Regions from separate parts of the Homo sapiens genome. Here all the other regions are linked to region 1. The links come from fine-mapping of genetic effects on gene expression. A gene starts in region 1. Each other region holds a variant in brackets. All regions are shown on one strand. Distances are from middle to middle. Region 1 holds the start of RTN4 (reticulon 4). Region 2 overlaps EML6 (EMAP like 6). Region 3 overlaps RTN4 (reticulon 4). Region 4 has its middle 41 kb from the start of RTN4. Region 5 overlaps RTN4 (reticulon 4). Region 6 overlaps RTN4 (reticulon 4). Region 7 overlaps EML6 (EMAP like 6).

The links.
Region 2: its variant is fine-mapped to the expression of RTN4 in lung (TOPMed, PIP above 0.99).
Region 3: its variant is fine-mapped to the expression of RTN4 in whole blood (INTERVAL, PIP above 0.99).
Region 4: its variant is fine-mapped to the expression of RTN4 in whole blood (TOPMed, PIP above 0.99).
Region 5: its variant is fine-mapped to the expression of RTN4 in whole blood (TOPMed, PIP above 0.99).
Region 6: its variant is fine-mapped to the expression of RTN4 in whole blood (TOPMed, PIP above 0.99).
Region 7: its variant is fine-mapped to the expression of RTN4 in nasal epithelium (TOPMed, PIP 0.98).

Annotation. Positions count from the first base shown.
Region 1 is chr2:55,048,175-55,052,646 of GRCh38, reverse strand. RTN4 (reticulon 4) reads left to right here and starts at 2,196. Exons shown (of 9, transcript NM_020532.5): 1 at 2,196-2,902. The coding sequence starts at 2,347. RefSeq lists enhancers at 2,366-2,415, 2,378-3,190 and silencers at 2,556-2,615, 2,756-2,875.
Region 2 is chr2:54,970,221-54,974,692 of GRCh38, reverse strand. EML6 (EMAP like 6) reads right to left here. Exons shown (of 42, transcript NM_001039753.4): 42 at 2,668-4,472. It overlaps RTN4 (reticulon 4), which reads left to right. Exons shown (of 9, transcript NM_020532.5): 7 at 826-872; 8 at 1,072-1,130; 9 at 1,495-2,504. The coding sequence ends at 1,537. Among named protein-coding and RNA genes, the nearest start is that of RTN4, 78 kb to the left of the region's middle. RefSeq lists a silencer at 30-231. The variant ATCTG/G (reference allele first, on the strand shown) is at 1,787.
Region 3 is chr2:54,997,958-55,002,429 of GRCh38, reverse strand. The region is part of intron 3 of RTN4 (reticulon 4); the gene reads left to right. Among named protein-coding and RNA genes, the nearest start is that of RTN4, 50 kb to the left of the region's middle. The variant C/G (reference allele first, on the strand shown) is at 2,220.
Region 4 is chr2:55,089,430-55,093,901 of GRCh38, reverse strand. It overlaps a transcript of RTN4 not described here. Among named protein-coding and RNA genes, the nearest start is that of RTN4, 41 kb to the right of the region's middle. The variant T/C (reference allele first, on the strand shown) is at 2,676.
Region 5 is chr2:55,009,454-55,013,925 of GRCh38, reverse strand. The region is part of intron 3 of RTN4 (reticulon 4); the gene reads left to right. Among named protein-coding and RNA genes, the nearest start is that of RTN4, 39 kb to the left of the region's middle. RefSeq lists a silencer at 2,788-2,847. The variant G/C (reference allele first, on the strand shown) is at 2,211.
Region 6 is chr2:55,017,167-55,021,633 of GRCh38, reverse strand. All of the region lies in intron 3 of RTN4 (reticulon 4), which reads left to right. Among named protein-coding and RNA genes, the nearest start is that of RTN4, 31 kb to the left of the region's middle. The variant A/C (reference allele first, on the strand shown) is at 1,905.
Region 7 is chr2:54,952,797-54,957,268 of GRCh38, reverse strand. It overlaps EML6 (EMAP like 6), which reads right to left. Exons shown (of 42, transcript NM_001039753.4): 32 at 3,113-3,286. Among named protein-coding and RNA genes, the nearest start is that of RTN4, 95 kb to the left of the region's middle. The variant A/G (reference allele first, on the strand shown) is at 2,374.

The DNA of each region.
Region 1 (4,472 bases):
AAATTTGTTTTGTTTAAATTCATTTGGCATTAACTTCCCGCCCCAAAATTCTACATCAATACATCTCTCTTCCTACTCTTCCCAACCCCTCCAAAAAATAACACCAAACTCAAAGCAAGTCACAAACGTTTTGCACAAATAAAGCCAGTTCTCCGTGGAATTAATGTGATAGGTCTTGAATATATTGTTGATAATTAACCCAATCAAGTAACATTGCCAGGAAATCTTTATTCTTTTCCTTTTTTAAAGGTTCATAAACTTTATTTCTTAGAGCAGTTTTAGGTTTACAGAAAAGTTGAACAGGAAGTACAGAGTTCCCATACACTCTCACTCCTGCCCCCTAACCACAGTTTCCTCTATTATTATTAACATAACGCATTGAGGTGGTACATTTGTTACAACTGATGAACTGATATTGATATATCATTAACTAAAGTCAATAGTCTACATTAGGGTTCACTCTTTCTGTTGTATAGTCCTGTGGGTTTTGTCAAATGCATAATGTTATGTATCCACCATTACAGGATAATACAGAACAGTTTCACTGCCCCCAAAATCTTCTGTGTTCCACCTATTTATCCCTCCCTCCAACTCTTACTTTTCTTTTTTAATACCCAAATTAAGCCACAGTAATATAAATTAGTTGGAGCTAAGAATTTGCCAGTGATTCCCCATGGCAATCAAACTTTCTTAATTATTAATCTAGACTAGCACTGTCCAAAAGAAATATAATGTGAGCCATTATGTATTTAAAAAACTCTAGAAGCTGCTTTAAAAGGAACAAGTAAAATTAATTTAATAATATTATACTTATCCCAATATATCCAAAATATCAATTTCAACATTCAGTCAACAGGAAAGCTGAGATATTTTACATTTCGGAGGTACTAATTCTTGAAATCCAGTGCGCATTTTACACTTACAGCACATCTAATTTCAGCCTAGCTACATACATTCCGAGTGTTCAATCAGTAGCCACAAGTAGCCAGTACCTGTCAGGTACAGCACAGATTTAGACTTTGAGCAACTTGAAAGCAGGTTATCCTCTTCTCTCCAGGGCCTCCAGAGTAGGCATGCAGTGAATATTTTTGAAAGGTAAATCAGAAAGATAAAAGGATCCTGATTCTTACAAAGATGTTCTGCAACTACTCTCTTTAAACTCTCCAGCCTCATAAAAAGTGGAATGGGGATCATGCTTATTCCTGCATATCAAACCAATGACTATGGGGCTTCCTGACTCCCAGAAAGCCTGAATCATCCGAAATGTTGACTCATGAACCTAAGGTGACTGAAATGTAACGTGAACCAAATTAGCTTTCCAAGGCATCTTTGTATTTCCACTTTCCTGTCTCCCCGCTGCCTCTCTCTTTGGGTGACTCACTCTCTTACCATGTAAGAGTCCAGCAGGCAAGGCCCCAAACTCTCTTTGGAAGAAGAGCAGACTTTCAAATGGTCGGCCCCAGATCCCTAGTTAATTCAGCACAGCTGTTTTCCTCCCAATTTCGGGGGCTGCGGTTTAGACTGAGTGAGCCTAACTGTCAAAAAACAATTTTTTTCTTATTTTAGGGTGGTAGTAGTAGTGATGTAGTTTGGAACTTTGAGTGAACAAATAATCTTTTATTTCAAAAATCTTTAAAAATCCTTAGGGCCCACTTCCCAGTCCCGCTAATACCTTTCTCCAGTCGGGTTTCTTCCTTTCCCGGGAGGAAAGTTTCCACTCTCAGTTCCCCCAGGATAACGCCCTTCCGGTGGCGCGCCAGAAACCGCGCCGACCCCTCCCAGCCAGCAGCCCGCCCCCTTTCCCAGTGCTCTAACGACATACGGACGCCAGCTGCGGGCAAGGCCAAGACCCCACCCCAACTCACGGTTACCCAAAGTGGGGGTGGAGCTCCCAGCTCTCAGCCCCGCCCATTGAACGCAATCCCAGCCGGTAAGAGAGAGGAAGTGCCGTAGTCCCCACCCACTTTCATCTCCTTCCCTTTCTGTTGGCCCGGCTGGTCGCCTATCTTCTCGATCCTGTAGCCGATTGGCTCTCTCCCTCCCGCGCCAGTCCCTGCCCTCCCCTGGGGAGGGTGAGTCACGCCAAACTGGGCGGAGAGTCCGCTGGCCTCACTCCTAGCTCATCTGGGCGGCGGCGGCAAGTGGGGACAGGGCGGGTGGCGCATCACCGGCGCGGAGGCAGGAGGAGCAGTCTCATTGTTCCGGGAGCCGTCACCACAGTAGGTCCCTCGGCTCAGTCGGCCCAGCCCCTCTCAGTCCTCCCCAACCCCCACAACCGCCCGCGGCTCTGAGACGCGGCCCCGGCGGCGGCGGCAGCAGCTGCAGCATCATCTCCACCCTCCAGCCATGGAAGACCTGGACCAGTCTCCTCTGGTCTCGTCCTCGGACAGCCCACCCCGGCCGCAGCCCGCGTTCAAGTACCAGTTCGTGAGGGAGCCCGAGGACGAGGAGGAAGAAGAGGAGGAGGAAGAGGAGGACGAGGACGAAGACCTGGAGGAGCTGGAGGTGCTGGAGAGGAAGCCCGCCGCCGGGCTGTCCGCGGCCCCAGTGCCCACCGCCCCTGCCGCCGGCGCGCCCCTGATGGACTTCGGAAATGACTTCGTGCCGCCGGCGCCCCGGGGACCCCTGCCGGCCGCTCCCCCCGTCGCCCCGGAGCGGCAGCCGTCTTGGGACCCGAGCCCGGTGTCGTCGACCGTGCCCGCGCCATCCCCGCTGTCTGCTGCCGCAGTCTCGCCCTCCAAGCTCCCTGAGGACGACGAGCCTCCGGCCCGGCCTCCCCCTCCTCCCCCGGCCAGCGTGAGCCCCCAGGCAGAGCCCGTGTGGACCCCGCCAGCCCCGGCTCCCGCCGCGCCCCCCTCCACCCCGGCCGCGCCCAAGCGCAGGGGCTCCTCGGGCTCAGTGGGTGAGTGCCGCGACCTCTCGCTTCGCGCCGCCCCTCGCGCCCCTCCCTCTTTTGTGTGCAGCCCCAGATGCTTTGGGCTGGTCCCTCCTCTCCGCCCCGAGGGCGCTTTGTCTGCGGACTTCGGGGCGATGGCGCCCCGTCTGGTTGGAAGCGCGGGGAGAAGGGTGGGGCGGCCCTTGGAGCCCGGGTTTGTTCTTATTGTCCGTCTTGGTTTCGGGGAACACGTGCACCGCTCCCGGCTCCCACTTTCACCCTGTGTGATGCCCAGCGTACGGATTCTCGGAAGTTAGGCACCCACCCGTAGTAGGAGCCGGGTATATACCCGAGAGCCAGGGTTGTGGATTTATCGGGTTGGTTGGGCTTCGAGGTGAGGAAGGAAAGGCCTTGGCACCCAGATATTTTTAGGAGGTGCTTTTGTCTACCCGTCTGGGTTGCTCCTTTGGAAAAGGTGCAGTTTTGCTGCGGGTCTGTTGGCCTGCATTCTGCCCCGGGCTCCCTCCTCACCTCCTGGCTGGCGTGGGTGGCCCCTTTGCGCTTCCCCTCCCCCTCCTCCTGTGCTCGTGGGGAGCTGGCCGAGTGGAAAACGTCCACATTGACCCAACCGCAGTGAAGGGAGAGCGCCTCCAGTGGTGTGGTGCGTGGAGAAATGGGAAGGAGAGAGTTCTGGTAAAGTCCTGCCACCGCCCAGCTCCCCGGGGTGTGATGTGGACTGCTCCCCACCAGCTAAACCGAGCCAGGGAAAGGGGATCTAGGCATTGTGTTCGAGGGGGCGTAGTTCTGCCGGGGTTTCAGCTGCAGGGTCGGAGGAATTGCTGTTAGTGTGGACTTGGCCCAGCCTCTTAGTGCATCATAATTGAATCTTACAGAAAAAAATAAAAGGCAAAATGGTTGACATTCCTAAAGAAGGGAAAACCTGTGGATTCCTTGCCAGGAATTGGCTAATTGAACTCGTGGCAGATTTACCATGAGACACAGAGAAATGTTTTGAGACAGACATTTTCATATATATTGGTTAGAAATACTGTTTTTCAGAAGGATATGTTTTAGGTTACAGAATCAAAATACGGTCACGTGCCTCATAACGACGTTTAGGTCAAGGACAGACCGCATTTGCAACGGTGGCTCCATAAGGTTGTAATGGAGCTGAAAAATTCCTGCCGCCTAGCGACGTCTTGATCTTGACCCTGTGTAGGCCTAGGGTAATGCGTTTGTATCTTAGTTTTTAACAAAAGTTAAAAAAAAAATAGAAAAAAGCTTATAGAATAAGAATATAAAATTTCTTTTCTATAGCTTTAAAATGTGTTTGTGTTTTAAGTTAAACGTTATTACAAAAGAGCCAAAAAGTTTATAAAATAGAAAAGATACAGTAAGCTAAGGTTGATTTATTATTGAAAAAATATATCTAAAGATAAATTTAGTGTAGCCTAACCGTAGAGTGTCTGTAAGTTGTACAGTAGTACATGGTAATGTCCTAGGCCTTCACATTCACTCACTACTCACGTCCACAGCAGCTTCCAGGCTGGCAAGCTCTGTTCATGGCCAGTGCCCTGCACACGTGTGCCATCTTTTA
Region 2 (4,472 bases), 78 kb after region 1:
AAGTCTACAAAGCCATTGGGATGAAAAATTGCTGGAAAGATTGTGTGCCAGGAGCTTAGACATTTTAGTGGAGAATATTCTCATTGTATGAAAAGTAGGGGATGAAAATGTGGGCCGGGCGCGGTAGCTCATGCCTGTAATCCCAGCACTTTGGGAGGCCAAGGTGGGCGGATCACCTGGGGCCAGGAGTTCGAGACCAGCCTGGCTAACATGGTGAAACCCCATTTCTACTAAAAATAGAAAAAATTAGCTGGGCGTGGTGGCGCACGCCTGTAATCCCAGCTACTCCGGAGGCTGAGGCAGGAGAATCACTTGAGCCCAAGAGGCAGAGGTTGCAGTGAGCGGAGATCGTGCCATTGCACTCCAGGTTGGGCAACAAGAGTGAAACTCCATCTCAAAATAAGTTTGAGGTTGTATTCTCTTTAAATAAGTTGGTGATACTGCTTCCCGGTTTATTGAAATGCTACCTTAGTTGCTGAAGACAGCTCCTACTAACAAACAGTGATAAACCAGATAAAGGGTGGCTTTATATGATGGTGCAGTCATAAATCTAACCAGGGATACCTTTATTTTATGAAATCTCACTGTGATATGATTTGAAGCTAGAAATGGTTCCTAGCTCTAATAACTGCAGCCTCACACAGTTCATTCATTCCTCTGGAGTGGCTCCTCAACAGCAGATGCATCCAGAGATCCTTATGTTTTTATTCATTCATTAGGAACACTGCTTGGTTATCTTGAGTTGCCAGTTTAATAGTTTTTTGAGTGTTTATTCCTCCCAAATCATTCCGTTCTTTTTGAAAAGTTGTATATTTCCCTTTTCAGCTCTCATTTCACTCTTCAGTGTTCCTGTTATTTATGAACGGCATCAGGTAATTTCCTAACTAACTGCTGACTTCAGAATAGAGCACTCACTCTATTACATGGGATTTACGGATGTATTAGTGCCCATTTTCAATGTCTTACAAAAATGAGAAGTGTGATGGTTTCTTAAGCCTTTAGCTTGACACATAGTAGTGGTTAATAAGATTCTTTAGCAACGGTAATAATTCCTTTATACCTCTCTTTCAGGCACAGATAGATCATTATCTAGGACTTGCAAATAAGAATGTTAAAGATGCTATGGCTAAGTAAGTATTTAAAATCTGCAGTGTTTTTACTAGGATAAGGTGTGCTGGATTGTGAGAACAGTATTTTCATATTGCAGGCATAATGAGTAACAAATCTCTATCAGACCTTAAGTGTGACTTCAGAGTTGCCAAAAGATTGTTTTTCTAACATTTGGACCATTCGTTTCTGGGTTTATTATGTGTTTAAGGCTTTGTTTAAATCTAATTCATGAGGCCAAGGTGGCAAAATTATAGCTTAGAATTAGGCAGCTTTAAGGATTTCATTTATTGTATTAGCTGAATAACATACAAGTAGTTCTTGGAAGATGGTATTTTAAGCAGCAGCAAACAAAACTGATATTTACATTGACTTTTTCATTTTCAGAATCCAAGCAAAAATCCCTGGATTGAAGCGCAAAGCTGAATGAAAACGCCCAAAATAATTAGTAGGAGTTCATCTTTAAAGGGGATATTCATTTGATTATACGGGGGAGGGTCAGGGAAGAACGAACCTTGACGTTGCAGTGCAGTTTCACAGATCGTTGTTAGATCTTTATTTTTAGCCATGCACTGTTGTGAGGAAAAATTACCTGTCTTGACTGCCATGTGTTCATCATCTTAAGTATTGTAAGCTGCTATGTATGGATTTAAACCGTAATCATATCTTTTTCCTATCT[ATCTG/G]AGGCACTGGTGGAATAAAAAACCTGTATATTTTACTTTGTTGCAGATAGTCTTGCCGCATCTTGGCAAGTTGCAGAGATGGTGGAGCTAGAAAAAAAAAAAAAAAAGCCCTTTTCAGTTTGTGCACTGTGTATGGTCCGTGTAGATTGATGCAGATTTTCTGAAATGAAATGTTTGTTTAGACGAGATCATACCGGTAAAGCAGGAATGACAAAGCTTGCTTTTCTGGTATGTTCTAGGTGTATTGTGACTTTTACTGTTATATTAATTGCCAATATAAGTAAATATAGATTATATATGTATAGTGTTTCACAAAGCTTAGACCTTTACCTTCCAGCCACCCCACAGTGCTTGATATTTCAGAGTCAGTCATTGGTTATACATGTGTAGTTCCAAAGCACATAAGCTAGAAGAAGAAATATTTCTAGGAGCACTACCATCTGTTTTCAACATGAAATGCCACACACATAGAACTCCAACATCAATTTCATTGCACAGACTGACTGTAGTTAATTTTGTCACAGAATCTATGGACTGAATCTAATGCTTCCAAAAATGTTGTTTGTTTGCAAATATCAAACATTGTTATGCAAGAAATTATTAATTACAAAATGAAGATTTATACCATTGTGGTTTAAGCTGTACTGAACTAAATCTGTGGAATGCATTGTGAACTGTAAAAGCAAAGTATCAATAAAGCTTATAGACTTAAAATATGCTTTGGTATTTTCATTTCATGAAATTGCAGCAGATTAAAAATGCACACAGTGGGTAAACTGCTTCAACCAGCGAATGGTAGCTTGTGCTTTTAGAAGGGTTTTTTTCAGCTGATGGTGCAGCTGTTTGTTTGTTTACTGTGGAAACAAAAGTCAACAAATGTGTTTACATAATCAAATTTTATTTGACACATAAAATGTTTAAGTGATGTGTTTTATACTTTGAAAATAAATTCATGCACCAATGTTTTAACTCACATATATCATACAGTGCAGGATTTATGAACATACATAAAATCAAAATCATACCATATAAACGTTTACAAATAAGTTTTTCATGACACACGGACACTATTGCTCTTTAAATATGGTTGTACATGTCATCATTAATCGATTCATTGTTCTTCCACATGGTTATTTCAATGCAAGATCCGATCAGCATGAAGAGTCTAGTACAAGATAGGCAGACATGGTTATCACTCTGCATCACCAGTCACATGGTTACAGAAAACAGAATTGGGACTGCATAGGGACTCTACTGCGGGCCCAACAACCTATTAGTGGATTGATGTAAGGCATTAGTAAATTGGCATATAAAAATAGCTTAATGAGTGATCTAATCCATTTAGAATGCTGAAGCACTTCTGTGGTAAATGTTAGTCTATTCTACAATTGAAAATGCCTCATTTTACCTTTTCTCTAAACTGACAAATGCAAGTAGCCAGTAACTGTAGGTCTAGAATTTTCGTTCACTGACCAGAAGGACTAATAGGCGTCTATGTGCTCAGAACCACCAGTCCCGCACCAACTCTCCTTTCAGTGAGCACTGTCAGCCACATCCTGTAGTCACTGGTCAGCTACATGGAAAGTGTGACTGAGGGGCTTACGGATGGCTTCTGGTAAAGATTGTCCAAGTCATATTCCGTCATACAACCAACTCCAAGGAACTCTAACTCACTTTATAATTTTGATTTACCAGCTATTCCTTGGGTTTACAATTTGTTCTGCAGATAATTTTTTTATAATCTGGACTTGACCTATATAGTTCGCCTGAAGCAATCAAATGAAGTCACCTCAACTCCACTCAGGGTGGTACACCAAGGTGCAGCCTTGGGTTACCCTCATTTATCTTAAGATTTAACGAGATAAGTCAGCTCATTCTCATAGACCTTCCTGAGCCTTTTTCCCCTTCCATTTTGTAGTAGAAGTTTGTTTAACTTGAATTCTATTTTGGATTTTGTGGGTTTGGCATGAAACACAATGAAAACCCATAATTCTACCCTGTCCCGAACTTCAATTCCTTTGCTGCTCACCTTCCCATAAGCAGGTAACCGATGTCTTTCATTTAGGAAGCCTTGGCGTGAACACAGGACAAGGGTGACACACTGAATCTGCTAAGGGTCCTGCAGCCCTCCTCAGCTTTGAGGTTTTAGCACCATATGGAGAAAGGAGAAATTGGTGGGAGGTGAGACAGCAGCCCACACAACTGGAAACTTTCAAAGGCACTTAATGGATATAAAACTCTGCAAATGAAACATTTAAAAATTAAGTTTCTCAACTCCTTTATACATGGCTCATTTGGTTTTGAAAGCTAAACTGGAGAACAGAGGCTAGCGATATTTCTAGTACTTCGGTGCATCTAACTTAGGCTGTCTTGTTCAACTTATTTGTAAAAATGAACATTCTTGAAGTATATAGAAACAATAGCAAAACATCTTTGTAAAAGTTTTGATGCAAATTAAAAGCTACATATTGGTTAGGGTAACCGAGGCTTCAAAATTCGTCAGCGGGCTACATTATCAGATAGGATTTCTTTGTCAATGTAGTTAGTATGTATACTGTTTAGTCTCAGGAACAGAGGCAAGCAGTCTTTAACATTTTAAAACTTGACCTTCCTTCGTGGCATCACGGTTTTGGAGAGTCCAGATTATGGGAGCAGTTGTGTAACTTCTGCAGCGTTTTGAGC
Region 3 (4,472 bases), 50 kb after region 1:
TAGGTAGTTTTTATGTTCCTGCAACATATTTGAGGCATTTTCTACTTGAAATATAGGAAAAAAAGACCACTGGCTGGGCCTTGTAGCTCACGCCTGTAATCCTAGCACTTTGGGAGGCCACAGTGGGAGGACTGCTTGAGCCCAGGAGTTTGAGACCAGTCTGGGCAACATAGGGAGGCCCTGCCTCTACAAAATTTTAAAAAATTAGCTTGGTGTGGTGGTGCACGCCTATGGTCCCAGCTACTTGGGAGGCTGAGGTGGCAGGATTGCTTGAGCCCAGGAGGTCGAGGCTGCAGTGAGCTATGATGATGCCACTCTGCTCCAGCCTGGGTGACAGAGGGAGACACTGTCTTAAATAAATAAATAAATAAATAAATAAAATAAGATTTGATTGACTTTATCTTGGCACATAAAAACCAATAACTATGAAAATAAATTTATTTTAGTTCATTCTTAACATAATTTAGTTTATAATCACAGCCGTGCATAAGGTTTTAGAATACATAGAGGATGAATCAGGTTTTTGGGATTTAGGGGAATGTAATTTTTGCCACAAAATTGTATACTAGCACAAAATGGCTTCTTTTGCTTTATGGTTGAATTTCACAGTGGGTCATATATAATGTCCCTTTACAAAAAATGTTCAGTGGTTTAAAAATGTACTTTCCTGGGGGCTCTTCCTAATCTTTTGAAGTGAGAGGCTCCGTTTTGAAGTGCCTGTTGGACTGTCAGTGTTTTTTGGAGCAATTCTCCAGCATCACTCACAACATTAACTTTGTGGAATTTCATGTTAATAGGAAGATTTGCAATTTTGCACTGTTGATTTGGGTGGTTTTATCTGACAAGACATTTAGGTAATGAGTGAGGCTGGATGGTGAATTTAAACAGTAAGGGATATTTATGAGCTTGGATTAATTTTGAAGATTACTTAGTGGATGTTTTCTTATTTATGAAAATTTTCTTTCCTATGCAACTTCATAACTGCAGGGACCATTTAACAATACTAAACTTGGGTAAGAGAATCTTGTACTCCTCAAATAGTGTTGGTTACTAGAGAGCTAGAGACGCATATTTTTTAAATCACAAACCATCTTTTAGTTCATGTTATGTGGGGAAAGGAGTATGTGTGTGAAAACACACTCGGTGTTTACAACGATTTTAATTGTAAAGGCCGTTTGTTCTCAGTAATAATAATAAGGTTCTATCCTGGGTGTAGGATTGGTTTTTTAATAAAATGAATAGTAAACATTGACTTAACTTCACATCTTTATGTTTGGCTTCTGTTTCCTGGAGATTTTCTAGAAATGGTATTTTCGTTGCTTTATATGCTGTGTTTGTCAAGTTTATTGCTTATTTAAAAATTTTAATATCATTCTTAAATTCACCAATGTCTTTTTTATCTATTTTTATAGTTCATATGTAATTACATAGATTGTTATTTATAGTATAAATTTATTTTTAAGGTGAGAACAATTCAGATTGCTTCTAGAAAACAATTTAAACAAAACATGGTTTATTCCTATTATTGAATCTCTTAATGAAATTTATTGGTCTCACCTATAACTCTACTCGTAGTGTTAGTAAATTGTGTCTCCTGTCTCAATTATTTAAACTAAGGTAGAAATAGCATTTGGTATTCTCAAGTAGCATAAAAAGAAACTTGAGTATTAATATAGTCTTTTAAATACAAAAGGTATAATAGAGTGAGACCTTCATGGTCAGACTTGAATTTCAGTTTGTAACCCTACACAATTTATTTAACAATATGTTTACATTACAAATGTACAAATACATTTGCATCACATATGTAATGCAGATAATACTTTTTAGAGTTGTTATGGATTCGAGGTAATGTATACAATGTACTCAGCACAGTGCCTTGCTCAGACTGGGAGATTACAAAATTATTGTAGAAAGGGGAAGTATAGAAATTTTGCTGATTGTTTATTAGTGCTATTTGTTTGTCATGTAAAGTGTTATTTTCTTAGGTGTGGTGGTTCAAATTCGCCAAAGCACTGTAACGTTATCAAAGTAAGACAGGAAAGATTTAGTGGAAGAGACAAGGACCTGAAATTTTGCACGTATCTGTTTAAAAACTCTAGTTAAAGGAAGAGGAGATAGCCAAGACAGATGCTGGCTTGCCAGGTATTTGGTTGAGATACTTTTGTAGCAGTAACAGGTACCCATCAGGCTGAGACTTGCTAATTGAAACCTCTTTA[C/G]ATATACTTTCAGAGAAAGTTGAATTCACCTTTTTTAAAAAATCAGGGCTTAGCTAAGCATTACATATAATATTTGATTGCCTTTCTTGACCTTATCTCTTGAGCTTTAGTACCAGTGTGTTCAGTTTACCAAGCATTTCCATATGTGAAATTTCAATTCAGCTTCAAATAATTTCTTAGGGGTGGGTATTATTTTTCTAATTTTACACACAGGGAAACAGAGATTACATTATCTTCTCAGATCATATTGATACTAACCTGAAGGAAGAAATAGGACTCAAAAGAAATAGGACTTAAGGTCCTCTTAATGTCTTTGTGAAGAGAGCTAAACTCTGCACAGATCCTTTTTGTGGACCTTCGCCTGTCAGTTTTTTGACAGGTGAATGCTTACTGTGTTGAGACAAAAGCTTACTATTACGTAGTACTAAATGTTCAATTCTGAATTCTAATTACTTTTCCTGGCATTTGGGAAGAATTTGATTAAGGGTTGTGATTCTTAATAAATATATAATTACTTATTATTATAAACATGGTTGTGAAAAACAACTGAAATTTTAATACCGTTCTAATATTTATATATTCATTTGTTTATTTCCTATTTAACTGCCATTCTCATTCCTCACCTGGCATTATTAAAGAGAACTTAATATTTGCTTTTGCTTCAAAAGTAGGTATTTTTCTGCCAGCCATTCCCTGTCCTAGTATTTTTAGGAACAGCCAGTTTAACTCCCCACTGCCCCGCCTTCCCAGACAAAAGCTTTTTAAAATTGAAACCTGACTTCGGGCTGTTCAAAGAAGAATGTAAGAATTTGATTTGAGGCAAAATGTAATTGGATGACTTCTGCACGTAAGGCATGCACAATGCAGGCTGACACTATTTTTAGCTATGGCAGATGACAGTTTGTGATTACCAAATGTAGGCAGCTCTTCTTACTGTGCATTGAGCCAGAAGTTTTTATTTTAAAGAAAAGATTTAAGTGTACTGAGTTATTTTGAATTAAAATTTTATTTTGATAAAGATGCTATTACACACAGTCATTTTTCACATTTTTATCTTGGAGACAAACGGCAAGGACTGCAGGGCATAAATTACTTTTTTCTAAACTACAAGGGTTTGTTAAAATTGATGAACATTATTTTTAGCAATTCATAAGCATTCCCCCAAAGTTGTAAATGGAAAAGTACTGCTAAATTCATCTCAGATCTTTGAAAGGATGTTTAATGAACATTTTGTATGAGTAAGGTTGAGGCCACAGAATAGGGTTACCTTGTATGATTAACCCTTTATTCTGCAGTATAGAAGGAGACTTGAGGAACCAAGAAAAGTTAAACTTTCCCTGTATAAACTCTTTGTCTTAATTTTGGTTTTTCAAAAATAAGGAACCACTAAAGTGATTACTGAGGAATCCAAAATTAGCATTTTGGTGATCCTGTAGTTCTTATTGAAAGGTGTCCTTTATTTTAATTTGAAAATGAATTTAAATGTTTCTGTTCTAAAAATAATCTGGCCGCTATTCAGACAGTGCAGCAAGCATTAATGATGTAGGTAATGGGAATATAAAGATGAAAGGCATTTATCAGTTTTCCAGGGTCTAGTAAGGGGAGACAAGCCTGCAAAACAGTGTTTTCTTTTTTATAAATTACCTGAAAGCATTATTTGTTATTTAATAAATGTAGACATCTGAAAATAGTGTAAATAAAATAAATGTTAAGTCTAAAGCGTAGAAACATTTTTTAAATAAATCAATTAGAATTAGTGACCTGTCATAAGGTATTCATTCATTCTAATCAGTCAACAGTAATATTGAAAATTTAGTTGTTTTTGGCTTTCTGCTCAGCTCTGGGGATAAAGTTAGGTAGTAAGACATACATGTTCTTTTATGGAGTTTACAACCTAGTAGAGAAGTATGTTGAAATGACTATTTTTTTAAAGTTTTAAATCTATTTCCAGGACATTTTCTTCACCCCCCTCCCAAAAAAAGCCCCCCACACCCTCTAGCAGTCACTCCTCTTCCCTTTTTCCCCAGCCCCTGACAATCACTTATCTACTTTCTGTCTCTACAGAATTCATAACTTGCATATTCAAGGCACTTCATATAAACAGAATCATAAAATATATGGCCTTTTGTGACTGGCTTCTTTCACTTAGCATATGTTTTCAAGATTCATCTGGGTTGTAACATGTATCAGTACAGTAGTTTCCCCCTTATTCTTGAGGGGTAAGACTCTAAGACCCCTAGCGTATGCCCTAGA
Region 4 (4,472 bases), 41 kb before region 1:
CTTCCTTATAATTCCTTTCCCAATTCTATTTCCCTTAGAAAAAGCAAACCATTCAAGTAACAGAAGCATAGCTAAATGAAATGCATTATATCCTTGCCAGACCTTAACAGGGAGTTAGTTAAGGGGCCCTCAGACTGCCTTCCTCTGGCTGTAATCAGAGGAGGAAACAATTGAGACATTTACCCTTTTTCCTCTTACCAATTTCTCTTCTCCTTTTCTCCTTCATCTCTGACTCTTTCCTAATCCCCCCTGGCCTCGTGGAGGGAGAGGTGTTGGTACCCTTGTACTCTCCAGATCTCAGGAAAGATGCAGATAATGACTCAGGGCTTCCTCCGGAAGAAGCATCACCTCTAAGCTATGCTGCGGAATCACTTAGAGGTTATGAGTGCAAGAACTTCCCTCAGCATAATAAACACCTTTCTGGCGTAACAGGAGAATGAAGAATACTTTCTTTGGGCCCAGGGACATTATTGCTTAATTTATTCTATATATATATAAAATAAATTAAATATATATAGAATAAATTATTTAAGTATAAAATACACACATATGTTTATGTGTTTGTAAATAAAACAACATACAGGTATACATGCATTTAGCCATTTAGAGTTCAACAGCATTTCAGTTGTATTTTTTAGCATTTCAACCACAAAAACTGTTGAACTAGGCACTTACAGGTATTACTAAGAGCAAATACAAATTCTATATTAATGTGTATGACATTTCTTCATTAAAGAGCTGTCACTATAATTGGCTGGCCCACGAATGTGCATCATAAGCTATCAAAACACAGACATTTTCAAGCAGCTCTTAGAACAATGCAAGGCTCTTATCTTCTGATATTTTACACACGTACACACACACATAGACACACACACAATGGTTATTTTTATTAGTGGTCAGAACTCAGTAAGCAACACTGAATAGATAAGTGAAAAAGTGAATTTTTAAAATCAAACAAAAAAGTTTTACCCATTGGGAAAATGTCTGTGAAGAAGAAGAAAATGCGAAGGGGCAAAACTGGCTACTTTGAAAGAATAAAACTTCACCCCATGTGAATTTTCCTGGGGCCGCTTCTAGCTCTAGTGTGAGGCCTCTGCTTTCTCCAGGGGAGCCCCCAAACTGAAATTGGAAAAGGGCATCTACATATATATGTGGTCAGTTTTACCTGGCTTACAGGAAGGAGTTAAATGACAAAACTCTAATGAGTGAGGCTTTTACCAGGTGCCACAATTGGGTGTGGCCTCTGACAGAGGGCAAGCAGGAAACAAGTGAAACTCAGGTATACTCATTCCACAAGTTTGTGTTGAGCACTTTTTTCTGCCAGGTAGTGTTCTAGGAGCTGGAGATAAAAAATCTCTTCCTTCGGGCCGGGCACGGTGGCTCACGCCTGTAATCCCAGCACTTTAGGAGGCCGAGGTGGGCAGATCACCTGAGGTTGGGAGTTTGAGACCAGGCTGACAACATGGAGAAACCCTGTCTCTACTAAAAATACAAAATTAGCCAGGGGTGGTGGTGAATGCCTGTAATCCCAGCTACTAGGGAGGCTGAGGCAGGAGAATTGCTTGAACCCAGGAGGTGGAGGTTACGGTGAGCTGAGATCATGCCATTACACTCCAGCCTGGGCAACAAGAGGGAAACTCCAACTCGAAAAAAAAAAAAAGAAAAGAAAAAAAAATCTCTCCCTTCATTGAGCTTCCTTTTTTTTTTTTAAGTCATGGTCTCACTCTGTCACCCAGGCTGGAGTGCAGTGGTGCCATCTCAGCTCACTGCAGCCTCAAACTCCTGGACTCAAGCAATCTTCCCACCTCAACCTCCCAGGTAGCTGAGACTACAGGCATGTGCCACCAAGCCTGGCATGGTTTGGCTGTGTCCCCACCCAAATCTCAACTTGAATTGTGTCTCCCAGAATTCCCACATGTTGTGGGAGGGACCCAGGGGGAGGTAATTGAATCATGGGGGCCAGTCTTGCCTGTGCTGTTCTCGTGATAGTGAGTAAGTCTCACGAGAGCTGATGGATTTATCAGGGGTTTCCGCTTTTGCATCTTTTTTATTTTTCTCTTGCCGCTGCCATGTAAGAAATGCCTTTTACCTCCTGCCATGATTCTGAGGCCTCCCCAGCCATGTGGAACTGTAAGTCCAACTAAACCTCTTTTTCTTCCTAGTTTTGGGTATGTCTTTATCAGCAGCATGAAAACAGACTAATACACTGGCTAATTAAAAAAAGTTTTCTTTTTGGAGAGACAGTATCCTGCTATATTGCCCAGGCAGGTCCCAAACTCCTGGGCTCAAGCAATCCTCCTGCCTCGGCCTCCCACAGTACTGGGATTCTAGGTACAAGCTACTGCAGCTGGCCTGAGCTTACATTCTAATGAGGACAGGAAGATGAAAAATTTGTAATCAAGCAACAAGTAAGTGTTACAGGAAAATAAGATAAAGGGTAGAGAGTGAGCAGGGGCTAGAAGTTTAGGGATTGGGGCAGACAGGTGAAAATTTAAGGGAAAAGCATTCCAGGCAGAAAAATAGCATGTACGGAGGCTCTGAGGCAAGAAGCTTTATGTGTATGTGGGAAGAAAGGGCCCAGTGTGGATGACACCCTATGAATGGAGGAAGAAAGAGGTCAGAGTGGTAAACACGGCCCAATCACGTGGGGCCCCCTAGGCCACAGAGAGGAA[T/C]TTGGATTGCAATGGGAAGCCATGAATGATTGTAAATGGTGGAGCCATACTGTCCGATTTATACACAGACACACCCCTTTCTGGCTGCTACCACCAGGTAGTGAAAAGGCCACTGGTGGCCAGAGGAAAGACAGGGCAACTGGTTAGGGAGGTTTTTGCTCTAGCCAGTTGAGCAAAACTGGGAGTTCAGTTGAGGACTGGTGGCTGAGACTTCTTGGGTGGAATCAATGGAGATGTGCAGAGAAGTTGAAAAATGTCAACTTGGGATGTGTCTTGGAGGAGGGACTGACAAGGCCTGCTGATCTCCTGGATAGAGAGAATGAGAGAAAGCAGAACCAAGGATGACTCGTAGATTTGGGGCTTGAGCAACTGAGTGGATGTGGGGCTGGTAACTGAGGTGGAAAAGACTGAGGGAGAAGCATGTTTAGGGGGTGGAGCCGAGTTTGGTTTTTGGCCATTTTAAATGGGAGTTACTTATTAGATATCTAAGAGGAGAAATTGTATGAGCAATTGGACCCTGGGTCAGTGCGGAAGACAGGTCTTTGGGAACCATCAGCTGTAGTCCTCCTTGTCCTTTAGAATGGGTCCAAAGCCCTACTCCATATTTCATGGAATTCTCAAGCTCTTGAGATGATTTTGGCGAAACTTCCAGGTGGATAGAGGGGAGGTGGAGACTTCATTCTCATTGCCTTCTGTAGCTCCAGCTTCTGCTTTGGTTGAATTGGCTCCGTTTAGGGACTATCTCTTCTTCCTCCATGACGTCCTCTTCTCAGAGAGGAAATTCAGCCACTTTCTCTATGTCCATACGCAGTCAAGATATTGAGTGTGCAGGGAACTGCATTAAAGATTTGCTGGAAGCAGATGTGAGCGTGTGTGTTTGGAAATAGTGTGAAGGTAATACTGTAACCCAAATTATATTAAGTGGAATATTGGGTCTCTCTGTTTTAAACTGTCTTGGGCCACTCTACCTAGGGGACATTTGGGGATAGTTCTATGGCCTTATCATACCTCCTATTCGCAGATACTGGACTTCTCCAGGTAGAGGAATTCAGCTGTCTCCACTCCAGCCCTATCCTTCCACTCAAAACAGCCCCATCCTACTCAAAACAGCCCCAGATCTATTTTACAATTCAAATCTACCAAAGACTCAGGAGAAAAAAAAGACTTTCATTAAATAAATCTCTCCTTAGAAAACATGTGTTCTTCATGAAAAGTAAGCCTTTCTCAACTTTAACAATTCCTCGTGCCTATTCTAACATTCAGACAGCTGCTTGGGGTGGGGACCAGGGGAGGGGAGTCAGTCTAGTTGCTGCTGTCAGTCAGTGATCTCAGTAATGGGGAAAATGTTCCATGCCCCAGGTGTCCCAGGGGGACCTTTTTACCACATGCCTGGAGAGGCCAGTGACAAGGAGAGGAATAAGACCTCCTCCCCAGGCACAAGGACCACAGTGCTGTGCTGAAGAGTGGTGGCCAGAAGAAGGCAATTTGTAGAATGGCCTTGCTTTGGAGGTGGGCTTGTATCTCAAGTGTTTGCATTTCGCAGATTTGGGAAATGACGACTAGAAACAGAAATAGCTAAAGCACTAGACATGCAGTTGACAACATTCACTTAGTTGGAGCAGGACGTCTCTGTCCCTTAAACGCTGAATTTTAAGTACATCCAGACAAGGAGACAGATTTTTCCGTAATTGATAAATCCGTTAATTACCTGGCAGATCATGCCGGAAAGTGGCTGGGCTGACCAAAACGGGATGTGCCTAGAAAGAACTGTAGAAGTAGACAAGTCACATTCAGGAG
Region 5 (4,472 bases), 39 kb after region 1:
GCAGTGTACATAAGCAGTCTCTAACTTTCAGAGTAGCATTTTCAATCCAAATGATTGCTGCTTTCCCACCCTCTTTCCCTTGCATCTCTAAATGTTGTAAAGAAAAACGAAGCAAAACAAAAACCTGAGTTTTTCCTGGGTGCAGAAGTAGAGGAAAGAAAGAAATGGAAAAGGAAGAATGTCTTAGAATAAGAGCTGGCTGGGGTGGACTTAACACCTTGCCTAGTGCTGCCTGTTCTAAAATCTAAAATATAACTTTCTACTGTCTGAAATCTTGCCAGTTAGATACCACCCCCCCTACACCCTCCCCCCCCCCCAAAAAAAAACCCACCAAAAAACATACACACAGTTTCTGAGGTCATAAAAGAGTTTCTTGTTTAGTAGGAATTGATTTATGCGTATTTCCTACTTAACAGGTAAGTGCATGAAGGAAACGAGGGTTTGGTCTGAGATGTGAGAAAAGAAACCGTGTAGGTAATTTTACAGCATATTACCCTTTAGAGCTTATCCCTTCATAAGATGCAAAGGAAAGACATTATGGATATGTATTTGGGCAAGTTTTCATCTTTGATTTTTTTGTCATGCTTGGGAGAAGGGGATACTGGGGACATGGACATTGAGGAGTGGGAAATTGCCAAATATGAACTTTGAACAGTTTATTTCAAAAGTTCTGTATAAAGCTGATTTTGAGTTCAGGAAAAGGAGAATACTTTTCCCCTCTTCTCCCCTCCACAAACACACAATATGAAATAGGGCTTAGAATTCATACAACACTTTTATTGGCTTGCAGTATAAATAAAGGAGTTTTCTGTGGCCTCTCCTTTGTGAGCCTTTGCTTTTATGGGAAAAGAGGTTCCTGTCTCAAATAGTCAAAATGCCATTCTGCAAGTTGAGACATGTGCTCTACTTGAAAATTGTCCTCAAAAGAATTAATTTTTTTAAAAGTTAGGTAGTTGAAGGAAAACAAAATAAATGAAGATAAGTTTTTAACAGATTTATGTCCTTTCTTTATTTGACTTGTTAAGTTGGGGTTCATTGTGGAATAGGACCTATAAACTATGCAGATGTACATTTTTCTCAGCTGGAAAATAATAGAACTATACAGCAACGACAATAGTTTGTGTATGAGAGGGGGCAATTCTGTTTAGAAAGATTGGGTTATTGCCTAGAGTTGAAGGACTTAATATATGAGCTTTCTTAGATGTGCCTTACTTGTCTTGTTGCTTCTTAGTTTGATTGTTATTTTTAGCATACTGATAAGTAAATAGCACTTACATAGTGCCTACTTTTTGTCAGGCAATGTCCTAAAGCCTTCTATTTTTAGTAGAGATTATATGATTTTCATAATAAACATAGCCCATCTGGCTTTACATCTTTAACAAATTTGTGTCATATCAGTTTTTCAGATTTAAGCACTTTTTTGCTTAACTTGCCAAACTTAAAACAAGTCTAGTTGAAAAACTTTGTGAGAAAGAACTGGGCAAAATGTCAGTTGATTTCCACAAGCTAGTTTTCCTTGTACACTTACAAAGACCATAAAAATTAAAGAAGTAGATGTCACTATGTAGGCTGAAATGTTTACTAAACTTCAGGGCTCCTATTTTGACTTTTTAATCTGTCAGGGGTGCTATTAAGTATGTTTAATGTTTAGATGAGTGGGTATGTCTTATTACACATTCTTGCCCCTCTCAGACTTTTTTCTTTAATTGTTAAGCCAAATCAAGTACCACGGAAGATACAAGTAGTCTTAAGTGCCGAGTAACTTGATCACAGTAAAACTTTTTTCTTCTACTAGTGAAGTAATCTCTGACTTGAAAATAGTGTTTGAGTACTATAGTTGAGTGTTTTATTCTAATGCTCGTTATTTATTGGCTTTCAGTTTTAAGGGACTTGTTATTAGAAAGTCAGTATTTTGTATTTACTAAATAGTTTGAGATTCTGAATGTTGCGTGGAGAGGCCAGACATTTTCAGGCCATGATATGGCTTGCTGACCGGGTTCTCAAATATCACATTATGCAGGGGTTCAGTGAATAAAGTTTAAAGTTAAATATTAACTCGAGCTGAGAATACTGGGCTCTTTTAAAAATTACTTTTCTTTATTTATGTTTGGAGTTAGAGAGGCAGATAGGGAAATAAATGTGTCATTGATATTCAAGCCACTTCCTTTTTCCCCTCTCATTTTCCTAATTTTAGTTCTTTCTATGTTTAA[G/C]TCTTACATGTTTTGTTTTTAGTTTTTTTGGGTACATAATAGGAGTATATATTAATATCAAGCCACTTCTGATATTAAGGATTTTGCAGCCCACAGATAGCAGGTTCCAGAAAATATTATCTCTATTTCATTTTAGCTATACAGTCTTAAGTATGTATTTTTGTACATAGGCTACGTATCTTATAGTATTTTCGCAAATTGCATTTTAAAATATTTTAGCTGATTTGTTAGTGCCTTTTCTGCTTAGGCAGATATAAGTATCAGGTGAATTGATTGTGGAACATAAGTAGAGACACTGCATTGGAATGAAAATCAGTTTTATAAAGTTGAACACAGATTTTAAAAATGCTGTACATAGATTTGTTTTTATATTTTTCAGTAAAATTTTAGGCCAGGTGTGGTGGCTCATACCTGTAATCCCCGCACTTTAGGAGGCTGAGGTGGGAGAATTGCTTGAGCCCAGGAGTTTGTGACCAGCTTGGACAACACAGGGAGACCTCATCTCTAAAAAAAGTGTAAAAATAAAAAATTAACTGGGCATGGTGGCACATGCCTGTGGTGACTGAGATGGGAGGATCTCTTGAGCCTGGGAGGTTGAGGTTGCCATGTGACCAATGATTGCACCACTGCACTCCAGCCTTGGTGACAGAGCGAGACCCTGTGTCAGAAAAAAATAAAAAATAAAATAAAATTATAGTTTGCTTTTATGTCATTTTCCCATGGCAGATTATATCATTAGCCCATGAATATATCTCCCCAAGCTAAGAATCTATTAATACTGTCTGTAGAGGTGTCTAATAAATATTCAAAGATTGAGTTGGAGCAGATGATGATTAAGAGTAAGTGTATGTTTGTAAGTCTCTGGATTTCCATAATTGTAAAAGAGGAAAAAAGATATTAGGAAGATTAAGTTGCTAAAGTTTTCTGTTCAAATAATATGTTCAATAAACATTAGTAATTTGACTTTTATTTTCTGTTTATCTCTTCATAAGGTGCAAAATGCTGAATGTTTTACGTCTTAATGAACTTAGGAGCAATTAAGGAGACTCATCATTTCACAAGCTTGAAATTTAGGCTATTAATATTTGATCAGTCCATTTTTATCTTATTAGGTAACCATTAATTTTAGAGTTTTAAATGAAACTGAAAACCAGTAGCATAATTCGACCATCTGTTAAAAAAAGAAAGAAAAAAAAACTGCATATGGCTTTAATTGCATTTCAGATACATTCAGTGGTTAGTTCTAAGAACAACCCTTATTTCCTTTCTTTTGGTAGCCTGCCCTCTCCCTGCAAATGCAGCTCCATTTGGTATGAGCAACAAGGCAAATGCCTAAAACAATCAACAGATAGAAGGAAAGCATTAATGCTGGAGTATTAGTAGCCTAGTTACAGATTGCACTGCGTCAGACTGTTCCACACCCAGAAGACGTCAGGTGACTTCAGTCCTGCTGCAGTTGTGCAGCAGAGGAGACTGCAGACTTCGGTTGAGGAAACGGGTATTTCATGTCTCAGGGAGTAGGTTTGTGCAGTTACAGCTTTTCTGTTGGTATGCATAATTAATAATTGGAGCTGCAAAGCAGATCGTGACAAGAGATGGACGGTCAGAAGAAAAATTGGAAGGACAAGGGTATATCTGCTTTTTAATTTCTTATTCAGTTTTTATATGTGACCACTAATATATTTCTATGAATAAGCTTTGGAATTTAGATATTTTGGATTGAAAGTGAAACCTCTGAAGAGTTGAAGTCTAAAGGATTAAAACGGCTATCTCACGTGTTTTTACATTTGGTTGTATACCAGAAAATGTCATGCTGTTCTGTTTCACTGGCATTCGGTTTAGTCTTTTCAGTCCTGCCGTTTAGGTTCTGTTCTCTAATCTTGCACATTGTAAACAATATAGATCTAACAGATTTCATTTGTTCGTCACTTGGATGTGGTAAATACACATTGCTGTTTTTGTGTTTCACAGTGACATATTTTCCGTGACTATTTTAAAAAACCTTACTTGGTGTAGTTGAAATTCTGTGCAAAGGTTTGTAGGTAGCAAGATATTGTGTTTGCAGTAAGCCTCTTCTTTGAAAATCTGATTTGAACCTTTAAAATTATTACCAACTTTCTTTTAATCAGATTATGTGCATCTTGAAATCATTCAAATTACACAGTATAATTACGCAGTAATTTTAAATGCATGTCTATATTTAAGTCACTAACCTTTGTCCTTGTAATAACCAATCAGTGATTTTGATCCCTTTTCCTCCCC
Region 6 (4,467 bases), 31 kb after region 1:
AGGTAAGTAGTGGCCAGTCACAATGGCTTACGCCTGTAATCCCAGCTTTCAGGGAGGGAGAGGTGGGAGGATAGCTTGAGCCCAGGAGTTCGAGACCTGCCTGGGCAATATAGTGAGACTCCGTTCTCCACAAAAAAGGGAGAAAAAAAAGACAAAAAAAAAAAAAAGTGTAAAAGCAGGTAAGAGTTGCTTTAACATGCTTCTATCAGGCACTATATGAGATTTTTTTTTGGCGGGGGGGGCAGGGAAAAAGATGAAACTAAGACAAAGTTTTGCGCTTTATGCAACTTACAGCCAGCTGGTACAGACACACTGTTGAGGACATAGTTAAACATTGTGATCTATGTTATAGTGAGGATAGGTACTTACCTGTGTATCTTCGTGAAAGGGAGGTTCAAGTGTACTGAAGTCAAATGTACCAAAATACAGCAGTGGTCTGATAAAACATAAGGGAAGCTCTCTTCTCAGATGACTTAAAAGTTTTATGCCATCTCTAATTATGAAATATTTAAGTGTGTTTTTAAAAAAATTCTGGGTCTTATTAATGTATATGCATTTAAACATTTAAACTATTAAATAATAAAATACTAATTTCCTCAGATCATTTATTATCTCATATGTTCTTCTTTTCTTTTTTCGAGACAGGTTCTTGCTGTGTCGCCCAGGCTGAAGTGCAGTGGTGAGATTATGGCTCACTGCAGCCTCAACCTCCCAGGGTCAGGTGGTCCTCAGCCTCCCAAGTAGCTGGGACCAAAGGCTCGTGTCACTATGCCTGGCTAATTATTTTTGTAGAGAGGAGGTCTTGCCTTGTTGCCTAGGCTGGTCTCAAACTCCTGTGTTCAAGGATCCTCCCGCCTCTGCCTCCCAAAGTGCTGGGATTACAGGTGTGAGCCTCCAGGACTTTCCTGTTCTTGTTTTCTTAAAATGACATTTTGTAGGCAGAAATCAGTTTTAGTTTTGGGAAGAAAGATTGATTTTGCAAGAGAGATGAATAAGGTATTGTGATGCAGATGGTGCTTTATTAATTTTGGGAAGTAAAGTTTGTCAAGAAACTAATGAATTCTGGTCTTCCTCCCCCTCCATTTACAAAGAAATTTGTGACAAACTATATTCTTACTATTGGAATGTAAATACTGATTTTTTTTCTCAGTAGTAGTATCAATGAATGTTCTTGGCATTTCCCCAATGAATGTTCTTGGCATTTTTTTTTTTCCAAAAATTGATTGGCTATAGATATGTTAATTAATTTCTGGGTTATCTGTTCTGTTCCATTGGTCTGTGTTTCTGTTTTTATGCCAGTACCATGCTGTTTTGGTTACTATAGCTGTGTAGTATATTTTGAAATTTAGTAGTGTGATTCCGCCAGCTTTATTTTTGTTCAGGATTGCTTTTGCTTTTTGGAGTCTTGTGGTTCCATACAGATTTTAGGATTTTTTTTCCTATTCCTGTGAAGAAGGTCATTGGTATTTTATTAGGGATTGCATTGAATCTGTAGACTGCTTTGGATATTACGGCCATTTTTTAACAATGTTAACTCTTATGATTCATGAACATGGAATGTCTTTCTTTGCATTTGTTTGTATCCTCTTCAATTTCTTTCATCATTGTTTTGTAGATTTCCTCGTAGAAGTCTTTCACCTCCTTGGTTAAACTTATTCTGAGGTATTTTTTTTTAAGCTATTGCAAATGGAGTTTCCTACTTGATTTCTTTTTCAGCTAGTTTGTTGTTTGTGTAAAGACATGCGATATTTTTGTTATTGATTTTATATCCTGCAACTTTACAGAATTTACAAGTTTTTGGTAGTCTTTAGGTTTTTCTTTATATAAGATCATGTCATCTGCAAACAGGGACAATGTGACTTCCTCTTTTCTAATTTGGATATCCTTTATTTCTCTCTTGCTCA[A/C]TTGCTCTGGGTAGGACTTCCCATTTCAGTCTTTATTTATTTGTTATGACATTAGCAGTTTTAAAGAACACAGGGCCTCTCTTCCCCCGACTTTATAATAGAACATTCCTCCTAGTGGATTTGTCCGATGTTTCCTAGTGATTAATTTGAGGCTATGGGTTCATTTATGATACTGTATAGATGATGATGTGTCCCTCTCATAGCACCACTTCTAGAGTTATCTGCTATTCATCAGTCCCTCACTGGTTATGTTAATTTTGACCGTCTGGGCAAGATGAGCTCTGATTTCCTTATATTGTCTTTGTTTCTCCCTTGCAGATGATAAGCAGTCTGAGGAGTGACACTTGAACACATGCAGATATCCTGCTCCCTATCAAAATTCGCCCCTCCAATTTAGTAAACCATTGATGATTCTTGCTTGATCCAGTCTTTACCATGAGAGTTGAAAAATGATTTTAACTCCAGTACTCCCCGTACATTTTTCATTTGACCCTCAGCATTCCTGTTTAAGCAGCAGACCTCCATTTCCATTAATGAATTAATTAGCTAATTAATTATCAGTATGGATCCGTGAATTTCCATTTTCTTTCCAATGGTTTATGATTCATTACTGAACTTTATTATTTTGGTGGTAAATTATTGCATATTTTGAGGGTTCCTTCAGGTAGGCTCAGGGACATGCAACCTTCTTTCTTTGGGGTTGGGAGGGGAGCATTTCTTACTTTCTAGCCTAACAAAATATTGTAGGCCTATTTTATGCTTACCGTGTCCCAGCCCTGGAATCAGCCATTTCTCCAAGGATGCCTGATTCCTTTTAATGTAGAATGAGAGGTCATTTTCATAATAGTGAGGTATTAAAGATCAAGAGCTAGATGCTAGTTGTGGTCATTGCTACTGTGGGGATCTTTCCATTTTAACCCTTTCAGTGGATAAAGCTAGGAAATGCTTATATACATACATAAAAATAAACATACACACATACACATACATACTTAAGAAATGAGTTCACATAGATACCTCTAATTCTAATCCATTCTCACAGGGTTTGTTCTTTCTTTCCTGATTTCATATTTGTCTCTTCTTTTATAGTGAGAACCCTGGTTCCTAAGACCACCAATACATTATTTATATCCAGTCCTTTAATACACCTATAAGAGTTTTAGAATGCTTTTTTCATATCACTATAATAAAAAAAAAACTTGATAAAAGAGTTCTGGATTGTTTGCAAATCCCTACTCTGCAACCCTGCCTAAGATGGAATGTATATAGTCAAATACATTATTCACAGATTACTTGTATTAGTTTGTTCTTTTTTCTTTTTCCTGCGTCCTTCTCCCACTGACTAATGGCTATGATATTCATTTGAAATACAATTAGCTTCATTTGTTTCAGTTCTAGATTTTCTTTCTCCCAGTTTTAGGTTTTTAACTGAGAATTTTAAAGTGTTGAGAAAAGCTGAATTCTTCTCATTTTATCTGGAAAGGGAAGACTATCATTTATGGAACATCTTCTGACCAACAAGCACTCTCACATATTTGTTTCATTTAGGTCTTCACCATAATCTGAAAGAAGGAACCATTTTATAGATGATAAAATCTAAGCCTAAGGATGTTAAGTAACTTTTTCAAGGATACCTGGTAAATTATGTAATAAGCACAATGTTTTTGAGCTTCTGCCGTGTTTCAGACATTGGGCTAACTTCTTATTTGTATTAGTTGTTACCTAGTTTCACAAGAATGAACTGCGATTCCAACTCAGGTTTTGTCCGTTCACAGTTATTTCCTGGTTTTGGAATAAGCAGTTATTGTCCTAACTTTAGCAGGCAATCAAGGTGCTACTGCTTTTATCATATATCTGTTGTGTTGAACCATTAGGCAATGTAAGACATTTCTTGACATCTTAAGATGTCAAGAAAGTTGGTTGCCATCTACATTTTCTCACATATGTAAGGATATTGGAACTAGGGTAACATTCTGTTGCTAGTATGTGGAGACTGAAAAACCCTACTTTGGACAACTGCTATCATCTGTTTATGTTGGTAGGCCATTGGTACAGAAAGGTGCTCATGTTTCCTGTCCAAACTGCTGAGATCTTGACTTAATGATAACTTAATATATGTTTGTTGGTTGCTTGTCACTAATGCACAGAGAATATTTTTAGTTCGTAATCGAAATATAGATTGTGTCTTGCTGAACTAATTGGAACTATTGGTAAGTGAAGTGTAAACCGACCATACATTGATTATTTGTTCATTATAATTAAACTATGTAATACCCAGGATTCACCAAGTAGTATTACCATGATCACTCACTTTAAAAGGGCTTGTTTGTCTAGGTAAATAGTACGAAATTAGCTTTGCAAACTTATATATGTTCATGAATAAGAACTTACATATGTTCATGAATAAGAATTGTTTTGATATTCTTACGACTTAAAATATTTTTCTGAAAAAGTATATATAGCCTTTGAGTTTTTTTACTGAAGTACTGTAGATACTAAGAGTTGATATTTTGTTTAAAATATATTTTTATTGAGCAAATAATATTTGGAAAATTTTGATGTA
Region 7 (4,472 bases), 95 kb after region 1:
TACTATTTTTCCTTAACCCCATTTATTTATGTCTCCTGAGTTTTATTTAACCTTTGTCTTAATAAAATTCCAACTCTACCATTTACTTGTAGAACAACTTTAGACAAATTATTTAAGCTCTCTGTGCTTTAGTTTCCTTACCTGTAAGATGGGGCTAATAATTGTTCCTATTTCAGAAGGTGCAGTGCAGATAAAAAGAATTGAAGTAAGTGAAGCCCTGAGCACAGTGCTTGATACTCTGAGTGATCATGTGTTAGCCAGTATTAGTAGTAGTAGTAATAGTATTATCATCACTCCTTTAGCTACTTTTAAAATTTCTTGGCTTCTATTCTTTTAGCCTGTATTTTAAACTCACCTCTTTTTTAATCTCATTATTTTTAAGCTCTCGAGTTTTAAATTTTTGTTTTAAACCTGTTACCCTTTAACTTACTCTGAATGTTTTTGTTCCGATTTCTTGTCACCCCTCCCTTGATTATTCACACACCTATTTTTTTCTTCTTCGTTCTCATCACTTCGCATTTGTTTTTATGACAGCTTTCTAGTACCATGATGGTGGTGGGTTTTGATGTAGCTGGGCCTGTGGCCACCCCTCTGATACTCCCTAACAGAATCTCTTTCCAGGCGAGGCTAGGGGGACCCACAGAGAACTTCTCCCAGCTGTAATTCTCTCTGCATATGGAATCTCTGACTTACTGTAGCAGATCTCTCTCTACTTAGGGCTCAGAGGTTTTAAGACCCACAGTCTCCAAGGATACCATAAACAAAGTAACACAACATACGGGAAGAAAGCACTTGCAATGCTTATAAGATTCAGAGGATTAACATTAGAGATCTATAAGGAACTACAAATTATAAGTAAAAGACAACCCTCCCACTCCAAGTAGTAAAAGGATTTGAACAGGTAGATTACAAAAGCAGCCAATACAAGTGGCCAATGAGATGGAAAGAGATTCCAGCTCACCAGTCATGGGAGAAGTGCAAACAAAGGAAAGAGATTCCAGCTCACCAGTCATGGGAGAAGTGCAAACAAACAATGAGTTGCACATTTTTTCAAAGCCACTGTTTATATTTTCCTTGTTTTAATTTCATGGACGCTTCTAATTGTGGAGACACCTGTATCCCTCTCTGCATTGGCTTCTAGTCTGCTCAGAGCAAATTACACATATACCTAGGACCTGACGACATGGATTTTATGTAATAAGCTCATTTTTAGGTCTATTTTATTTTTACCTACACACACACACACACACGTTCCCCAAAACAATCCTCTAATAAATGAAGAATGAATAATAGGCTCTCTAGTGATACATAAAATGTATGTAAACCTCCCCAAACACATGCTATTTATCTGTAAGTAAGACTTGAAATGAAGGCAAACCCACACTGGAGAAGGAAGGGAGGAGAAATGACATGTCCGTGGTCAACCCGGAAGAGGTGGTGGCTAGCGATAGGTCACATATCAGCACTGGCTCACAACCCTCTGTACAAACAAGAGCAGGCTCCTCTTTTCCTCGGGAGCTTGTTTAAAAGCCCTGGCTCCTCTAACCTTCCCCTGGGAGGTCAGAAGGGACCCTGGGTGAGCAAGAGTCTGTGCTAGGGCAGGCCAAAGCAGGCACTGCTTGGAGGACAGGTAGAGGGAGTGAAGACAGTGAGCCTGAACCTAAAAAGACAAGGCCGTGCAGTGGGGCCAGTGTGAGAGCTTTCTTCCAAGGATCTAGGAACAGTTAGCAGCACAGAAGAAACATATAATGAAGCAATTTCTGTCCCCACATAAGAAGGGGCTTTACGCAAGAGCTTTCTGACAGCGTGTGGGCTGCCTTGTGAAGTGAGGAGAGCCACATCCTTGAAAGTATTCAAGGGGTCCTTGAAAGCCACACCCCTTGAAAGGACAAAGGGGTGCATTTGAAGGAATTTCTCCTTAGGATGGGTCCTAACTGCAGGAAGTCTTCTCTAGTTCTTCCCACTCCAAGATGCTCTCTGTCTATCATTTAAGATGCTCAATTTCTCTGGGCTGAGTCTGGTCAATCAGTTGGCCACTTGACATCACAAGGAATGAATCTGCACCCCTGGGATACTGACTGTGCAGCCATCTGGGTGAGATATACTGGTGAACCAGAGAATGAGAACATGTGGTTTCCTAGAAACATTATAGATCATGTCACCTTCTGAAGGAATATGGTATCATTACAAATGTCTGCAAGCTGTCAGGCTCTTTTCCTCATATGGGGGTGCTCAGGAGTGACTGGAACTTTCCCCCAGTGTGCTGATCTCTTTACAACCTCCACGCACCACCCCCTCCATGGGAAGATGCAGAGATAATGGGACTCCAGAGCCCTGGATGGGAGAAGTGACACCTCTGCGCTTGCCTGGTAG[A/G]GCGTGTCCCAGATACAGGCTGCCTAGCTGCAGACAGACCTCATTAATGTTCTGACTAATTGGATCTGCTCTTGCCAGGGCAGTACCCAACCTGAGAATATATGAGGAGGACTGCACATCTTTAGTTCTAAGATGACCACACATTCAGTTGCAGCTTGTGTGTGTGCATGTGTGTGAGGTGTGTGTGCATGTATTGGGGGAGGACTAGAAAGAAATCCTGTTACAGTAAATGTAAACCTGGATTGTAAGATAAATCCCTATTTCAAAAGTGTTAAAATGTTAAAAAAAAAATTTAAATGTTTCTGAGACTATGATAAAACATGATCCCATTTCCTAAAATAAAGCAGACAAAGTGATAGGGCTGTAGTAGGATCCAGGGGCCATCAGAAAGAGCACGGAAGACAAGGACCCTTGGGTAGGAAGGTGGCTAAGACAGATGTCGGGGAGGCTGCTGCCTTCCGAGGAGGAGGGCTGCCAACATCGGGGAACCTCCTCAGAGCCCCTTCACTAATGGGCCCTGGAGTCCCTGGCCAGCCTCCTCCTGGCCCTGGGACCCTGGGATGCACTGGCATCAGTGGGGCAGCTATACCAGGATCCCCAGTGCCCTGTTTTCCACTTGCCCAGCAGCAGTCAGTGCCTACGGCAGGCTTCGGAGTGAGGCAGATCTGGGTTCGAGCCCACAGGCTCGACACCCACAGGCAGACACCCTGGAGGGACAGAAAGCCCAGTGCTGGTTTACCTTCCTGCCATCGCCAGACAGTGATGGTGTGCTCAGGGTCCACTCCCACCGACACCAGGAGCTTTCCAGTTGCACTGAAGTTGATGTAATTCACCCCCTTGGAGTGGAAGCACCGCAGCATGGAGAGGGTGTGTTTGGTCATGGCGTCCCATATGTGGATGGAAGGTGTTGTCCCTGAGTGTGGAGAGGCATGACAAAGAAGTAAGGCTGACAAATGGCAGAGCCAAGGCGATGCTTATGTTCATGTAAAAGCCTTTTTTTTTTTTTTTTTAGACAGAGTCTTGCTCTGTTGCCCAGGCCAGAGTGCAGTGGCACCAGCTCAGCTCACCGCAACCTCCACGTCCTGGGTTCACACGATCCTCGTGCCTCAGCCTCCCGAGTAGCTGGGATTACAGGCACGCACCACCACACCCAGCTAATTTTTGTATTTTCAGCAGAGACAGCATTTCACCATGTTGGCCAGGCTGGTCTCAAACTCCTGACCTCAGGTGATCCGCCCGCCTCCCAAAGTGCTGGGATTACAAATGTGAGCCACTGCCGCCCGGCCTGCAAAAGCCTTTTTTAAGACAAATGTTTAGGGCTGTTACAGTCATTGGGCATAAGAGACCTATAGCCTGACCTGGCCAGAGGAGAAAGACTAGAGGAAATTTGCTTTTAAAGGCAGAGCCCTACGGACATTTATGTTCAACACACACACACTTGCAGAGGATTTTATACGAAGGAAACTGGTGAGGTCAATGATTTGTATCTGCAATTCGGCAAGATACAATCAGCAAACATGATAGAATGACATGATTTTGCTCTGCAGATTCAAACTACTCACGGATGGAACAGCCTTACCTGGGGTTTCCGTAATATCACCTGCATTGGGTGAGCAATGGCAATGAGGAAGCGTCAAGGGAAAACAATAGCTAAAATAAGTCACGTTTCCAACAGTGAAGCACTCAACACCAGCATCAGAAAGTTCCAAATTAAACTTAAAAATGGACATGATTCAATGAAAACAAGCAGGAAGTTGTAAAAATTGCTCGAGATGACTAAGTGAAAACAAACTTCTCATAAATGTGAATCAGTTCACATTTGTCACCGGCAGTTTCCCAGGGCACAGGGGGTCCAGGCACACTTACTGAAACCTACCCTGGCCAAGCACAATAACCAGCTTCAAAAGACACGGAGTTCTTGACACTTGGGGTCTGAAAAACTATTCTTACAAGTCCACAGGGATGGGGGCCAACGTTTATTTGGACTCTCAGGCGCTGGTCAGACTTTATGGTCCCTCAGAATCACAGTCACTGGATGTGTCAACGCAGGTGACACAGATACACTCAGGACTCAAAAAATCAACAGCAACATCAACAAG